Homo sapiens: one gene and its partner. The protein of the gene in region 1 purifies or fractionates together with the protein of each later gene. This does not show direct contact. Each region holds a gene or a part of one and is shown on either strand. Other genes may lie near its edges.

Evidence for each region. The genes of interacting proteins can lie anywhere in the genome.
Region 2: the proteins of GCA (region 1) and LCP1 purify together in Homo sapiens (affinity purification with western blotting, with the first as the bait; one study listed by BioGRID). This does not show direct contact.

The regions. Positions count from the first base shown.
Region 1 is NC_000002.12:162,354,132-162,357,631, forward strand, and holds part of GCA (grancalcin), read left to right. Parts: intron 1-2,306; coding exon 2,307-2,350; intron 2,351-2,626; coding exon 2,627-2,774; intron 2,775-3,500. UniProt on the Homo sapiens protein: Calcium-binding protein that may play a role in the adhesion of neutrophils to fibronectin. May play a role in the formation of focal adhesions.
Region 2 is NC_000013.11:46,151,178-46,154,677, reverse strand, and holds part of LCP1 (plastin-2), read left to right. Parts: intron 1-1,732; coding exon 1,733-1,898; intron 1,899-3,500.

The DNA.
Region 1 (3,500 bases):
GTCTTTCATGTTAGGTGCTTTTCTCAGTTATCTGATGATACTGCTTTGCTCTTATTTTAACTAAATTGCTGATTAGAAGCCCTGAGATCATGGTTAGGCATTGATTGTGGGCTTCACTGTATGGTGATTTGGCTGGGCAGTTTTGTCTTGGAACTCTGGGTGTCAGTATCTTTAGGGATTCCCTTTTGGACTGGGTTTTCAGTTGACCTTCTGCCTGGAAAGGAGAGGTGGACTCAGAAGGGTTCTCAAATCTTTTGTAAATTGTCCTTTAATTGCCTTGCTTTTAGAAGATAGCCCTGTCTCAGCTCTGGTATCTTACATTTCAGAGACTCCTCCAGAGAATAAAATTCCAGATTTCTGCTGGGTTGGAAGTAGGTGTAGCATCCATCCAACTGAACCGAGGCAGGGAGGGGATATGAGGCTTAGAATGCTCCTTAGGTAGACATTCAGCCAATTCTTCTGTTTTTATCTCCACTTTCACACCCACTTTCAGAAGTACTGCCAATTCTTTGGCATTTGGGGTCTTCTCCAAGGGTTGCTTCTCAGCTTTTCTCATTACAAGTTCAGGAATCCATTTTCTCAGATCTAGGTTGGTTAACTCACATCCATCAGCTCTTCAACTTGCAAAATTTTGTTACTTTGTTTCCTGTCTAATTCTCTTTTTCTCTAAAGTTTTATGCCTTAAATCAGTTTACTCTCCATTCTAATGGGCTATGGGGAGGAAGTGAAAAATCTGTCAACTTTCCTGAAAAGTCTGTCTCTCCACTCTTTGTCCTAAATATTTCTTCTTATACATACACATTCCTATTCTGAGATTGAAGATCTGCTCATTTGCTGATTCAGTTTTAGCGATCTATTATCATTAATTCGGATTCTCCCACTTTATGAATGTGTGCCAAGTTAATTGTAAAGCAAAATAGATATTATTTACTTGCCCAAAAGAGGAAATACCATTCCAGAAATTTCTCATGTAATCCCCTCACTCTGACAGTTGTATAGCCTTAGCTTTGTAAACGTGGGGAACTGCCTTTCTGGGTCCCAGTTTCTTCCTTTTTTACAATTGGAACTATTATACGTTTAGCATGTTTATGTGAAATCATGTAACACACGCCACCTTACTCATGCTAAGAACACATTGAGTATCTATTGAGTTGTCAATTTGAAAATACTACAACCAACAATTCTAACATTGATACTATATTAAACATTTAAAGAAAATCAGCAATTTTAACTCTTGGAATGTCTTATAATTTTTTCTTTAGTGGGTCTAAAATTTAGCTGAAATAATTTTCTGCTTTTATAAAATGTTAAGATGTTATGGATAAAATAATTTTGAAAATTTTCATTCATTCATATTAACAAGCTGCTATTAAGCACTTTGTAAATTTAAACTGTACTAACGTGATGTTTTCTTTATCAGGGCATGAAATTAGTCTTGAGATATGTCAGCATACAAATTGAATGTAATTGGATTAGAAAAATTAGAAAAGGATTAGAAAAATTGAATTTTATCAATAGGTCATCAGTTGTAGTTCTATAAATATGAAAGTGTTAATATTTCAAATCACCCCTGGTTTTAAGATAGCTTGTATTGATTTTTTCTTCCTTTTTTCTCCCCCCAACCCCCGAGAAAAACCAGTTGCTTCAATTCAGATGCTCATTTTTTCTTACTTGGTCTATTACAATAAATTACCAATGGACTTACCTATTTCCAATATCATCTCACTTTATATTTTATTCATTGTAAACTAAGTTTCTAAAATGGAAATTTTAGAATTTCCCTTCTGCTTCTGAAAACACTTCAGTGGCTTTTCATTGGCCCAAACTTTTTGGGGGTAGTATTCAAAAGTTTCATGATTTGGCCCTCATTTGCCTTTCTGATGTCATCATATGTCACTCTCTCCCATATACTTTAATGCAAGTTTTGTGATCTCTGAGTACATGTCAAACTTCTACTTTAACTCCACTTGTCATTTGTGTTATGAAGACTGGAAGCCTTCCTTTTCCCCAGGCTTGGGTGAAGCCAAGTGCTTTACATACCTGGAATGTCTTTGTCACAGTAATTTTCAGTTAGTTTGTAATTGCTCATTTAATTAACTTAGTCCCCTCACTAGATGTGAGTACTTTGAAGGCAGTAATTTTTTTTAAACAATGGGTGCTTAACATTCAATAATAGCTTGTTGATTGTGGTGATTTTATATATTTTGGCAGTTTTTTAATGTTTTATTTTGAAACTGGAGATTGTCATAATTTTACATAGATAAAGTTGGGCATACTCTAATTTAAATATTGAATATGTTTTACAGCCTTCAGTTTGGAAACCTGCAGAATTATGATTGCCATGTTGGATGTATCCTTGAATAGAAATAGAAAATACTAGAATAAAGAGTAATTGCTTTCTGACTATCAAGCCAGTGGTTAGATTTCAGTGCCTGTAGTAAACTAGTGAATTTAAAAATACTTTGTAAGATCCTGTTTAAATTCTAGGCTTTCTAGTTTTTATGCAGAAGTCTGTTCATATAATGAGTTTGGCTAAGTCTACAGAAGCATACTCATGTTTTAGTCAATGATTTAGAGTCAGATAAACTCAGGTATCAGAATTTATTTTTGTTAATAAAACTATCAGAGAGATCACACAGGAAAAATGGGATTTAATGCATTCAAAGAGCTATGGGCAGCTCTTAATGCCTGGAAGGAAAACTTCATGACTGTTGATCAAGATGGAAGTGGCACAGTAGAACATCATGAGTTGCGTCAAGCCATTGGTCTTATGGGTAAGAACATTAACATTCTTTAGAATCTATAAAGCTAATCTTTGTTCTTTGATTAGATGAACTTAATTGCTTCAATTTACTAACTAATAAAGGGATGTATTTTTTTGCCAGCAAGTTCCTTTGTTTGTTTTCAAGGTTGTAGGTAAATTCTGACCAAAGACCTCAACAAAACCATTTTAATTATGATTTTTTTCAAAAGATGATCTTCCATACATGCATACATTCTGAATTTCTTCTGTTGTGTTTAAATTTATTTCTTTGTTAGTACTTACCAGTTAGATTGTATTCTTTTATAACTTGGCAGGATATCTAATTGGGAGCCAAAGCTTGCCTCAGTCAGTCAAAAGTCTGTACAAAATAGGTTTTCAGTGGTAGAAACCATGTTTTTGTCTTTTTTTTCTTAGATAGTGCAGAACACATAGCAGGTGCCAAAATACATCAGGATGGAAAGGTTGCATTTTAGAGTAATTTAGAAGTATATAACTTTATTCTTATACCTCTGATAAGCTGATGTTCCTAGTGTACTTTTAAAATGGATAACATACAATGGTGTTTAATTTGCTTAAACTTAATGCAGTTTTAAGTAGCTTTATGAATTGTTCTTATGCTTGTGATTTACACTCTTCTAAACAAAATCTATTTGTATGAAAATTAATTTTTTGGAAGTTAAAATCTGAACCCAATGGAAGTGGGCTTATCTCAAATTGCAATTTAAATAAGTCAAAT
Region 2 (3,500 bases), on another chromosome or scaffold:
GTCATACTTCAGGGATAAAGGGATACATTTCTGAGCAGCAAAGAAGGGAGACTGGTGGAGTGGTAGCAGCTGGGGCTTTGTATGTTTGTTTTGGCCACTTAGGAATAAAATTCACTTTGGCTAAAGTTTTAACTCAAGCTTTCCTTAGCAATTTATCTTTGATTTGATGCCAAATAAACAGCATTTTAGATGAAAACATAAGCCTTTCTAAGAAGCGAGGGGGTGAAAAACGGGAAGTACTCTGGCAGCCTTCATAGTAATTTTGGCCACAGCCACGAGTATAATAAATATAACTTGCTTTTATTCCATCAATTTGTTGATTAACTGGAATAGTAACCAGCAGTAAGTGTATTTCTGTGTTGTGTTCCAATATTTTAACATTATCATAATTCTTTTGCTAAGAAACCATATCTAACTTCTTAAATCATGAACGATACATTATCTCCTGTGTGGATTTAAGCAACCTTGTGTACTTTAAAAATGGAAATGGTAACCAAATTGAGAACAATGATTAAACACATATGAATGCACTTAATGTTAAATTTACTCATAATCTTGACCATATATAGAAACAGTATTTTTCACTCATCATTTAAGCACTAGAACAAGGACCCACTTTTCTTCTGATAGTTCTTTTCCTAATTCACTGGCGGCCTTTGCTTTGTTTTTAATTTGCCAATTAAAACAATTTCTATACATCTCTGACATTGATATCTCTTCCTTTTTAAACTCAAGAATAGTACATACAGAGTCTGGACTGAAAACTCCCTTGACTCTATCTCGACTATATGTGAGTTACATTACCTGCATTGTTGTTACTCATAAGAACATAGAATCTATGAGTATGTGTGTGTATACTCAGGTTCCCTAGTTATTACAGATACTCAACAAATCAACCTAGCAAAAACCATTCCATCTTTTCCAGGAATTTTAATCGTATCTATTTTTCATTTTCGTTTTCTTTTTTTTTTTTTTTGAGATGGAGTTTCACTCTTGTCGCCCAGGCTGGAGTGTGATGGCATGATCTCAGCTCACCGCAACCTCTGCCTCCTGGGTTCAAGAGATTCTCCTGCCTCAGCCTCCCGAGTGGCTGGGATTACAGGCACCTGCCACCATGCCCAGCTAATTTTTGTATTTTTAGTAGAGATGGGGTTTCACCATGTTGGTCAGGCTGGTCTCAAACTCCTGACCTTAGGTGATCCACCCGCCTTGACCTCTCAAAGTGCCGGGATTATGGGCATGAGCCACCGTGCCAGCCTTTTCATTTTCTTAACACCCAATCTTCAAGTCAAAAAGCTCTTCTGCTACTCTCTTTTATGATCTTGATTTACATCAACAATTGTCTTATTCATGATGGCCAGTGACAGGACAATGACTTTCTCAAAGGTGTCCCTTTATTTTTGGCCAATAGAGATGTTTTGTGTGTCAGCTTCATCACAGAGCAAGATGGAAAAATATAGGCCTCATCAGTCTCATGCCAACCAGAATGGGCCTTCAACTTATGGTGCTGGTTTGATTGAATGGACCACTGCATGAGTGGTCGGTGTCTGGGTTACTGGATTTTCTCTTCTGGTTATGAGTCACTGTTTTTTTCTCAATGTTAAAATGAGTGAAGACCATGACTCTAAACCTGTGACCTTCGCAGAAGGAAAACATTGTTACTGTTGCCATCGGTATTATTTGGCATCTACAAAGTCATAGAACAAAAACTTGCATACATTTTCTCCCTCAGGAAAATCTGAACTTGGCTCTGAACTCTGCCTCAGCCATCGGGTGCCATGTGGTCAACATAGGGGCTGAGGACCTGAAGGAGGGGAAGCCTTATCTGGTCCTGGGACTTCTGTGGCAAGTCATCAAGATTGGGTTGTTTGCTGACATTGAACTCAGCAGAAATGAAGGTAAGAGCAAGTCCCAAAGGTCATTTATGACACAGCTTTCTAATAACTTACGCGTTGGGGACTGTAGGAGGAAGATGTCAGAAATTCTCAAGTTTTGAAAACTACACAGTTATATTGATTCCATGGTATTCATGTCACAGATTCTATACACACAGACCAGACGTTTTTTAATGATAGAGCAAAAGCTTTTTAAGACCATAGACTAACAATAATGTTTGTTTGGAGCATAGGGCTCAGTCTTGAATGTTTGGCACTCTAACCTCAAGAGGTTTTTTCAGAGCTCACTTTGCCTTTAGATATTTGTAACAAATAAGAGGACTTTTAACTTGCACTTTGCGAAGTAAGCAACTCACATTCATATACTATAGTGAAGGTACCAGATTAGGAGGAACTTGGTCTATTTCTTATCAAAACTATAGAGGAAGGTATAGGTCAAAGGGTTCAAGGTTGCAATTATATGGGATGAATAAGTGGAGATCTAAACAGCACGAGGGCTATAGTTAATAATATTGTGCTGTATACTGGTAATTTGCCAAGAAAGTAGATTTCAGGCACTCTTCCTACAAAAAAGAAAGAAAGAAAGAGATAGAGAGAGAAATGAAGAAAGAAAGAAAGAAAAAGAAAGGTAACGATATGAGATGTGAGTATGTTAATTTGCTTGACCAACAGTAACCACCTTACTGTGTATGTGTCTACCAAGATAAGTATACCAAAACATCACGTTACACACCTTAAATCTATGCAGGCTAGAATAAACATTTTTAAAGACCGTAGAAAATTCCATTTAGGGTTTCAGAGTTCTCAACTAAATATGTAGCTGTCAATCTTATTGCGTCTTCTCTCACCATCTTATCTGTATGTAAACAGTGACAGCCCCCTGGCTTAGACAGAGGTAGCCCACCTTGATAAGTATCATGCAAAACACGATGTTATCTTTTAGTTATCAGGTACAAATCCTACCAATATGAAATCTGTAGTCAAGTTCTAATCTTTAGTTATACATACTTTTTTATTTATATGTCCAAATCACAATAACCAATGAAAAATCCTGAAATATTATTTAAAAACCAATGTATTAAACATAATATAAAGAAGGCGGGGGAGAGGAAATAGGGATCTTAGAACCTGTGAGAAAGAATATTGATCTTCAAATAATGACCTCAGCTAAATTTAAACCTTCTAGCTGAGCAAAAAAATACTTACTCATCTGGGAAAACGTAGAGGAGAGTTGATTACATTGTTGAGTTGCTATAATTAGGCAGGTAAGCACTTGAAATATAAAACACCTATGGGAATAGACAAGAGAACATTGTTATTATTACAAAATTGATCTCTTAAAAGCAAAAATGTTGTCATATTGTGAAATGTGGTTTGACAGACCCAGCAAAACATCCGAGCCAGTAGCCTTGGTTATTTTTATGGCTCTGCCCAAATGTTCTTAAACATAGCGTTGAGATTCACTGTGCTTTGTTTTCTCCATCTGGAAAATGGAGATAATAAATAAGCTCACAATGGCTTACGCCTCTTTTTAGGGAATAATAATAAAATATTTAATCCATGGGAAAGGCTACAAGAACCTTTACCCCAAAGAGGTAACGTTGT